Homo sapiens: one gene and its partners. The protein of the gene in region 3 purifies or fractionates together with the protein of the main gene of each other region. This does not show direct contact. Each region holds a gene or a part of one and is shown on either strand. Other genes may lie near its edges.

Evidence for each region.
Region 1: the proteins of RMDN1 (region 3) and NTMT1 fractionate together in Homo sapiens (co-fractionation; one large-scale study listed by BioGRID). This does not show direct contact.
Region 2: the proteins of RMDN1 (region 3) and PDS5B fractionate together in Homo sapiens (co-fractionation; one large-scale study listed by BioGRID). This does not show direct contact.

The regions. Positions count from the first base shown.
Region 1 is NC_000009.12:129,629,163-129,632,817, forward strand, and holds part of NTMT1 (N-terminal Xaa-Pro-Lys N-methyltransferase 1), read left to right. Parts: intron 1-3,487; 5' UTR 3,488-3,541; coding exon 3,542-3,655. UniProt on the Homo sapiens protein: Distributive alpha-N-methyltransferase that methylates the N-terminus of target proteins containing the N-terminal motif [Ala/Gly/Pro/Ser]-Pro-Lys when the initiator Met is cleaved.
Region 2 is NC_000013.11:32,771,324-32,774,978, reverse strand, and holds part of PDS5B (sister chromatid cohesion protein PDS5 homolog B), read right to left. Parts: intron 1,791-3,655; coding exon 1,655-1,790; intron 1-1,654. UniProt on the Homo sapiens protein: Regulator of sister chromatid cohesion in mitosis which may stabilize cohesin complex association with chromatin. May couple sister chromatid cohesion during mitosis to DNA replication.
Region 3 is NC_000008.11:86,474,701-86,477,774, forward strand, and holds part of RMDN1 (regulator of microtubule dynamics protein 1), read right to left. Parts: intron 2,625-3,074; coding exon 2,594-2,624; intron 897-2,593; coding exon of another isoform or gene 835-896; exon of another isoform or gene 694-834; intron 254-693; coding exon 120-253; intron 1-119.

The DNA of each region.
Region 1 (3,655 bases), on a different chromosome or scaffold from region 3:
CCGTCCTCTCTTGAGTGACTGATGGAGGGCTGTGACATGGTTGCTCCGGTACCTGCTGGCAGAGGGGCAGGCAGCCCACCTAACCTGGTCCTTACGCCATCAGACCATAGCAGCCACCAAACCCAGCTACATGGTGACATTCAGATTGGTGGCCCTTTTTCCTGTCAGCTACCCGGGCACATCTAGCAGTCTTGAGGATTGGCAGGTCTGGTGGGAAGAAGAATTCATTCTTCTTCTTCTTTTTTTGACACAATGTCTCACTCTGTTGCCCAGGCTGGAATGCAGAGGCAGGATCATGGCTCACTGCAGCCTTGACCTCCCAGGCTCAAGTGATCCTCCCACCTCAGTCTCCCTAGTAGCTACTAGAATGTGTGTATTTTTGACAGAGATGGGGTTTCTGAGCCGTGGGCTTCTTTCTCCTTCCGGCAGTGTTGTTCCCAGTGCTGGGACACCAGTGTGGGAGCTTTGTGGTCAGCTTGCGGGGAGGGTGTTATGTGCAATATTTAGAACTAAGGTCCTCCCCAGCCTGTTACCCCAAAGGGCTCCCTGATTGGTGAAGTGACTGCTGCCTTTCTTCATTGTGGCTGAAACCCTTGTGCGTGAACAGTAAAGTGAGGGGTCAGTCTGCGAGCGGATTCAAGAATCTGAAGAGGGAAGCCAGGTGCAGTGGCGTGCGCCTGTAATCTCAGCTACTTGGGAGGCTGAGCAGGGAGGATGGCTTGAGCCCAGGAGTTTGGGGCCAGCCTGGGCCACATAGTAAGACCCCATCTCAAAAAAACAAGAATCTGAAGAGAAGTTTAAGCAGGCTTCTCTCTAGGCACAGCCAAAGGATTCTGCTAAGGGTGAGAAGACCCAATCACGGATCTAAGAAGAACCCCGTTGCATCTGTTAGAAGTATTCTTGAGCTGGCTGGGCGGGGTGGGCCTACTGCTTCTGGAAAGTTCCTTCTCTTTCAGGACAGGTTCAGAATATAGTAGTGCAGAATATAGTTCTGGGGCCAGTAACAAATTTGACCAATGAAAAATCTTGGCTGGGTGCAGTGGTTTCTGCCTGTAATCCCAACACCTTGGGAGGCTGAGGCAGGTGGATTGCTTGCAGCCAGGTGTTTGAGACCAGCCTGGGCAACGTGGCAAAACTCCATATCTACAGAAAATACAAAAGTTAGCCAGGTGTGGCGGTATGTGCCTGCAGTCCCAGCTACCCTGGAGGCTGAGATGGGAGGATCACCTGAGCTGTACTCAAGTCTGGCGACAGTGAGACCCTTTCTAAAAAAAAAGAAGAAAAAATTCTCCAGCTTGTCTTGTGTTTAGTTTCCCTTCTCTTTCCTCATAGTTGCTTCCCAAAGGCCTCGTGCTCCTTCTCAGGGCATTTTCCCGTTTCCCTCTGACCACTTCTCTTGAAGCCCCTAGAGTGTTCCTGGGTCTTAAGCTTTGAGTTGTGTTTGAGGACTGTACCCGAGTTCCATATGTGGACTCTTCCGTGTTGACCCTGTAGCTCCAGGAGTCAGGCAGACGGTCTTGGACCTACGATTTGTCAACTTTGGCGACAGGCATTTGCTAGAAGCCCCCTGCTCTCCTCGTGTGGAGGCAGCACGTGCGAGGCGGTGAGCTGCAGCTCCCAGTCAGCTGCGCGTTTTCCACCGAGGGTATTTTCCCTTTACCATGGGTTTATCAGGATGTAGCAGCTGCTGCTGCTGGGATTCCTACCACCCACTGTTGCTGTGTGTCCTCAGCACGGCCACTGCCATTCTCACTCTGCCTCCTTTAGGTTAGGCCTTGGCAGTGTGGGAAACACATCAGCCGAGAGTTGGTGCCCAGCATGCACTCGAGGCCACCCTCATCCAGGCCCCGTCTGCCTTTCCGAGCTCACCTTCCACAGTCTTCCCCCGCTCCACTCTCCGCCCTCTGATGGCCCATGCTGTCCCACGGCTGCTCCCTCTGTCTGCCCCACCCCCTCCAGCACTCCCTGTGCTTGGCTGCCCAGCTCGGGCTGCCTCCTCCAGGCGGCTGCCCCTATCTGCTGTTGGGAGGAGATTCCTCTGCCCTTTGAGTGTCCTCGACACTTTGTGGGTCCATGAGAATCCTTATTTTTCTGCTGTGTATTTTCTTTCCCTTTGTTCTTTGTCCTCCTGGACTAGAGCTCTCTGAGGTCTTGGCAAGCCTCACAGCAACTAGAACAGCCCCTAAGCGTGGTGTGCCTTGGTGACAGCACTGTGCCTTGGGAAGCTTATGGCAGAATGGCCACCCGTGGAGCACGGAGCCGCCCAACTGTCATCGCTGTCCTGAAGGGTGAGGTGGGCCTGGGCTCTGCTGCCAGGACCCAGCTGAGGCTTTCTAGTTCTCTCTCCTTCTACCGTGGCAACCGTCTCCTCATCCCCCTGCCATCTCCACCGCCGCCAGCAGTCTTCAGAAGCATCGGTCTTCCCGGGCCACTCTCTGTTGGGCCTCAGGGTGGTTGACTCATTGCTCTGTAGGATGCAGTCGAAACTGCTAGAGTTGACTGTGAGACCAGGAACTGGCAGCCGCGAGGGCTGTCTGTCCTTCCCTCCAGGAGCAGTGCCGTCGCCCTCCACCTACTGCGCTTATTCTTGCCCATCCATCGGTTTCAGCTTACGCGTCCCCTCCTCAGGGATGCCTTCCCTGGTCCCCGCACCCGACTCCACTTCCTCCCTCCGTGCTCTGCTGGCACTGGCGCTTCTCCTCTGCAGCCCTCCCTGCAGGTGTGGTTGTGTCTGTAGAATTGTTTTCTGCCTGGCTGGCTGCCTGGTTCACAGCCCGGTGCCTGGCACAGAGTCCCCACTCCTTGTTAACGGAGGACTGGACCCCACCGTGAGTTGTTGCTGTGCTCTGAGCCAGAGGAAGGGAGGCGTGGAAGCTTCCCTGGCCCTCCAGGGTCTGCTGGTGCTCTCGGCTTTGCGGTCGTTTCTCTTTATTGATCAGGGTTTTCTGTGCCCTGAAGCCACTGAGTCAGGTGTCATATAGAGCATATCAAGAACTTGAAGCCAGGCCAGGCACATGGGCTCACACCCGTAATCCCAGCACTTTGGGAGGCCAAGGTGGGAGAATCTCTTGAGGTCAGGACTTCAAGACCAACCTTTGTAACATAGTGAGACCCCATCTCTACAAAAAATAATTAGCCAGGCATGGTGGCACACAACTGTAGTCCTAGCTGCTCCGGAGGGTGAGGTGGGAGGGTCTCTTGAGCTCGGGAGTTGGAGGCTGCATTGAGCTATGATCACACCACTGCACTCCAGAAAAAATAAAAATGTAAAAGAACTTGAAGCCAGGACTTGGGGCGGGTGCTCTGAGTGCAAAAGACAGAAGATGCTGTTATCCAAGGGGTAGAAGCAGATTTGGGGACCCTGGACTTCTCTCTGCACTCAGCAGGATGTGTGACTTGTGAAGCCTGGTGTGAGACTGGCCCTCTGCCCTGGGGGCCTTTCTGCCAGGTCCCTGGCCCGCTGACTCACGCCCCCTTCCTTACCCAGGAGAGTCGCGGTTGCTGATCGTGGTGCTTGAGTAGAGCCGTGGTTGGTGACAGCATGACGAGCGAGGTGATAGAAGACGAGAAGCAATTCTATTCCAAGGCCAAGACCTACTGGAAACAAATCCCACCCACGGTGGACGGCATGCTTGGGGGGTATGGCCACATCTCC
Region 2 (3,655 bases), on a different chromosome or scaffold from region 3:
TATATGTGCATAAGATATGCAGTAATCATTTTTAACTAATCTTTATTCTCATTTGTTCCTGATTTTCTTTGCTTTCCTTTCCCTGAAACTTTTTATCCTTACTTTCTGCCCTGGCATCACATATTTAGACCTCTATAACATTTGATCCCTTACAGGCTCACAGACTTCCCCAGAACAGTGAAAGAAAAAAATTATTTTACTTTTCTATCTAATAATTTTAAAGAGAAATGAACAGAAGTCAATGTCTACAGCAAGAAAAATAACTCAAACAGATTAATCATCTTTCTACTTATGTTTCCTGTGGTAAATGAAAACATTTCACATTTATGAACTTACATTATCTTTCTGGGAAAGCAGTTACTGAGTTTGGATCTTAACAATTATCAATACAGTAAAATAACCTAAAATTCAAACATATTATCATTTGCTGACAAGCACTAATGAAAGCATAAAACTTTAGTTCAAAAAATGTCAATATTAACAATAGGAATATAAAAGAGGGTTTTAATTTACATGTAGTTTTTCTCTGATGAAGACATCAATCGTTACTGACTCTTCAGACTTACTTTGATGTCCTCCCCAAAACCCTTTAAGAAACAAGCCAAACTAATTTGAGGTCACAATTATGCATATTTTCCTGTGTACTTAACTCGCTTATTCACAAATATGAATCCTGGTACAGATAGGAGTTCTGATTCCATTAAACAGGACAGAACAGCAGAGACCAATTCTGAGACTTGATTATAGAGCTTGGGTTTCTCAAACAAAGATAGGAGAAGAGCTTCTACTTAAATGTATTATGTTTTTTCCTAAGAGAAATATCTGAGTTGTATTAACTGGTAAAGTTATTTATTTATTACTTTAAAAGTCAAGAAGGGCCGGGTGCAGTGGCTGATGCCTGTAATCCCACCACTTTGGAGGCCAAAGCAGGCAGATCACTTGAGGTCAAGAGTTCGAGACCAGCCTGACCAACATGGTAAAACCCTGTCTGCACTAAAAATACAAAAACTAGTCGGGCACAGTGGCATTGGCCTGTAATCTCAGCTACTTGGGAAGCTGAGGCAGGAGAATTGCTTGAATCTGGGAGGCAGAGGTTGCACTGAGCCCAGATCGTGCGCCACTATACTCCAGCCTGGGTGACAGAGTGAGACTCTGTCTCAAAAACAAAAAAGTCAGGAAGTAACACATACCTACTTTTGCAAAATAAGTATGTATTACCAATTTTATGAATTCTCATTCAGCTCAAACTTCAATTCCAAAGGCTGATTTTATTCTGTGTAACTAACTTCTAATTTCTATTATGAAACCCAAATAGAAATACCAAACGGAGAGTTGTAAAATATAAACAACAGTATACTTAATGGGTATCAGTGCCCTAAAATCAAGGTACAACTTACATGCTTAAAGTGTCAATATTAGAATGCTGTACATTCAGTTCAGACTTGACATTTACATTCTCATTAAGCTACACCTATTTGCTTAGTTTCGGGTTTCCATAAAAGATGTTCTCCATTATCCAACCTGGTAGATAAAATGATGCTATGAACTAATGAAGTAAAACATATAAATACTAAACAAGTACTAAATGATCTAACCAAACATTTACTAACTCTTTTTATATCCCACACCACTCACAGAAACTTTGAACACATACATTTACTGTAGAAACTTCCTCCTCCTCTGTTTCTTCCTGTGGAATATCATCGACAGGAGAGCTACCCTGAAACACATCTACTTCTTCACTTGAATCATTTTCCTTAGTAGCTGCTTGTTTGGAGCGTCCTACACGGCTAGAGTAAAACACATGTAAAACACAATGAACGTTCCAATCTTTCAGTAGATTACCTCGTTAGAAGAAATGTTTCACGTATTTCATCGTCATATCATCTTTACCCTCAGTTACTTTATGAGACAAGAACATTTCTTTAATATTCTGAATCCTAAACCAGCATTTAATCATAGAATGTTACATATTATCTACCAAGTAACAACAAAAAAATGTGACTGAGAACATACCATAACCTAAAGTCTGCTCTTCCTTTCATCTTTCCTAACACAGTAAAAGGCATCTATGTCTACTGAGCTGCTCAAAGCAGAAAGGAATTCTGCTTTGAATATAGTGTACCTGTCTTTGTCTGGCCTTATAGATTCTTATGGAGATCTCAAATCCATTCACTTCTCTCCACATCTCCATTGCTACCACCTAATTCAAACCATTCCCATCTCTTGCCTCTTCTCTTTACAAAGTTATCTTTTAAAAGTACAAGAACAGATGATGTTACTGCTCCCTACTGAGCTGAGAATAATTTTGTAAACCTCCTTAACAAAGTATACAAGGAACAGTAGATGGTCCTTGCCTACCTGTCCACTCTCATCTCTTTCTGCTCCCCAACTCCCCACAACTACAATCCAACAAACCCTTGCCTTCCTTTAGCTTTCTGATTTTGCCAAGTTATTTTTCACTTCAGAAACTTCAAATATAGTGTTCATGCCACCTGTTCTCTGCCTGTCTAGCCCCTACTATTCTCAAGATATCAACTCATTGTTACTTTTAAAGAAAAAACTTCCTCACTCCATTAGATGGTGGAAAACAAGAACCACGAGCCCATGAAAACAAGTACCACGTCTGTTTTGTGTCCCTAGCACCTAGTACTCTCTGAAACACAGGAGGCATCAAAAAATATGTAATAGAACCATCTAATCAAATGGATCCCTCTTGATAAATCTTTATTTTTTAAAATTAGAAACATAACATCACTTCTATAAGCAATCCAAAATATGTATTTTTTTAACTCACGCTCGAACCAAACAATTTTTTTACTTGGTTTGGTTTTTCGAGATTAATGAAACTATAGAAATAACATGAAACATAATGACAATCTTTTTCAATTTCACTGAGGTCAGAACAAGAAAAAGAAACAAATCCTAACATATGTTAGTATACTAGCTCTAGAAAGAGCTTCCCAGTGAAAGGAAGATAGGCTTCCAAGACAGACTACAGAATCTTCTTCCATATCAATTTTTTTTTTTTTTTAAGAAATACTTGTTTGGTTTAGAACATTCATAGGACTTGTGTAATTTTAGGAGAGCACAATAATCATTTAAACCCTGAATTTTATGATGTCCAAATATAAACAAACTAAAATTATGAGGTTTGTTATTTCCTTGTTACATCATTCATGTGTATTTTATTAAATAAAGGATTCCTTAAGAATCCTTTGTTTAGAAATAGTGATTTGGTTGAATCCAAACACATTTATAAAGCTGCCACAAAAATGTACTTACCTTTACTTTTAACCTGATAGAAAAATTACATGGAAGATGGCATGAAGTACTGGCTAGACACCCAGGCAACTTTTCCTCTTCCTGTGGAATACACAGGAATAGGAAAATCTCTAAGATAATTGAGTATTTAATGACAGTACATTGGCAACTCTGAAAAGTCGAGCCATGATGTAATTATGTATGGGTGGGATTACTCTCAGAAAAAGTGTTAAATTTCTGACTAATAGAAGACATGCTACTCTATTTCCACTCACATAACTAAGGAGAAAAAACACTGTCAGATCTGCAAATTACAGCAGTGATACTCTGGTGACACTAAAATTTGAGGTACAGATTCTTACTGTACCTCTCTTATAAATGTGTTTGTGTG
Region 3 (3,074 bases):
ACACACTTGTTTTCAACAATATTATGCATTTAGAAAATTATGCTTTTAAAGAAGTTCTTAATTCACCATTTAATAGTGCCTCAAAACCTTTCTGCCTTACTTTATGGGAGATGTTTTACCTGTTTATCCTCCTCTGTGTGTGCTGGATAGTCCTTGGCTTTCATTAGCCAGAAAGCAGCAAGCTTTTTGTTGTGTAGTTTCAAGTATGTCTTTCCTAAAAGAAGTAAGTTTTTGCTGTAGAAGTTTGGATCCACTGCACATAAGAAAGAAAAAATGATCTCAGAGGAAACAGTGTTGCTTTTATTTTTAAAGGTTTGTTTCTGAGGTCTAAATTTCAATAAATTTGTGTGGTCAATAAGTGATTAGACTAATGGGAATTCTCTTTTGTTCAACTGTTTATATCTCAAACAAATATTTGTAAAATAATAATTACCAATGAATAAACATCTACAAATGTGCTAGGCACTGCATTATACACATTTCTCATTTTCACAACTTTGTAAGTAGGTATCTCCATTTTATAGATGAGAAGCTGAAGCTCCCGATAGAATGTATGCTATTTGAGGACAGCAATACTCTTTTTAATCTCTTTAGTTCCCTATGGTACCCCACGTGCCTACAACAGTGTGTGAAACATAACATACATTCAGTGTACATCGGCTGAATAAGTGAATGAAATGATGATGACATATATATATTTGATCAACATTTACTGGATGTCAGCTATACTTAAACATAGAGGATGAAACAAAACCTCTGTTTTTTTCAACTTTATAATGAAGAGAGAAACATGAACACAACTAAATGTAATATAAAAATGAAAGGAATGCTTTACTAGATATACAAACTTTGAACTGCTACAAGAAACCAAAAAAAAAAGTGGAGAACATTCTTGGCTGAAAGAAAAGCATAAACAGAAAGCCTATGAATGAAAACATGGAATTATCTCACCAACTTAATTCTTCACAAAGTGTCCCCCTAACAATCTGAGATCCTCTGTATTCAAAGCATACTTTTTCCTGTATACAATTAATGATTAACTCCATTTGCTCCTTAACCAAAATTGTTTTACTTCTTTTATTTGAGCAGATTTGTGTGATGCCATGTTGATATACTTAAGTTGTCCTGGGGTTAAATATATTCGTATATTCAATCATCCGATCATTCATCTATTTACTCAGTCATTCAACAGATTTGCCAAGCATTGTGCCAAGTAATGAGTGTGCAATTGTGAGCCAGAAAAGACAAAGTCCACATCTTCTCAGAATGTACAGTCTTACACATGTAAATGTTCATAGTATTGAGTGATAAGTATCACTGGAAAAATAAAAGATACTAAGGGCATCAGAGGAGCCTCTGAACTGAATATAGGCCAGAAAGAAATAAGGTAAGGTCACTCAAGAATGACTGAAGTTACCAGGGATTATTTTAGCTCCATGAGGGTAGGACCATGTTTTTCTCAACACCCCCAACCCTTAAGTCTCTAAGGTCCTATATTTTTACTTTGTAATTAACTTTTAAATCTGTTAAAAAAAGTCATCCCTAGATTCATATTCATGATATGTGAAACAGTATGATCAAGAGAGGGTATCAGTGAAGGTAATAATGAATAAATCAGAATTGATGAATTACAGAGATAAAACATTCAGATAAAATTCTGTAGAAGATAACTGTTATCATGAAATGAACAAGTCCATTATGTGTGGGATCTCAAATTTAATAAACATGGTATGTCTTCTCCTGATTAAGTTTTATAGAATATATTTCAATGGTTTTTATGGTCTATTTGGTATCATATGCTTATGTCTCTTATCTCCCCCACTTGGTGTATGAATATTAAAAAGGATAAATTTAGGATGGGCTGGTGGCAGTTTCATAGGACTAGTCATTTTTTCAAAACAAACATAACCCGAAACTCTTTTTCACAATATCTGCAATAGAACTAGCCTGGCTGAATAGCAGAATTCCCATTTAAATGCCTCTAATGAGATGCATAATCTTTTTTTGTTTTTTTCAGACAAGTCTCACTCTGTGGCCCAGGCTGTAGTGCAGTGGTGCAATCACAGCTCATTGTAGCCTGGAACTCCTGGGCTCAAGTGACCTTCCTGCCTCAGCCTCCTGAGTAGCTGGGACTACAGGTGTGTGCTACCACACCTGGCTAATTTTTATTTTTATTTTTTGGTAGAGATGAGGTCTCGCTATGTTGCCCAGGCTGGTCTCAAACTCCTGGGTTCAAGTGATCCTTCTGCCTTGGCCTTCCAAAGTGCTGGGATTACAAGTGTTAGCCACCACATCTGGCCAATATGTGCAGTCTTGAATAAGACAATTACCATGTCAGAGACTGCTCTCACAAAGGAAGCAGAATTACATCAAATGATAGACATTCCAGAACTGCAGCTCTAAGTTCAATAGCAGCCTATTTCTCATTCAGGTGATCTTTACTGAATAAAGACTTTAAAAATTGTTTTACAGTATCTAGCACAAAAATAAGTATAACAGAATAAACAACTGCTTTAGACATTGCTATTATAGTATATATTCAGCATTCATACAATTTTAACTATATTAATATGTGTAATCAAAAATACCTTACCTTGTTCTGCCCTGTGAAAGTAGCCTAAGGCCTGTCAAAAACACAAAGAGCCCAAACATAATAAAAAAGATTAAAGAAGACAATATTAAAAAAGCATTGTCTCAAAGATCTACTGCTATATTATATTTAAGTCAGGAAGTAAATCATCTTAAAATAATGGTCACTTCTTCAACAGTGAGAGTTAACACCCAAAGTGAACGTAACACTTCAATCATCAAGATTACAATATATGGACTACTTCTGGTAATAACTTGGTTGCTGTTTAGAACTTGTACCAAACTAACATCATGTGCAGAAAGGAAAGAACATTATCACGTGTAACTCAGCTATTTTGACAGTTCTCTTAAATCATAACTAGTGATTTTTAGTAAAAACAAAATATAATCAAAAGCTGAATTTATTCGTTGTACTAGTGAATTTTTAAGAGTCCATTATTATTGAAATTCCTACATACAATGTTAAGTCTGAAACTCTTTTTGTC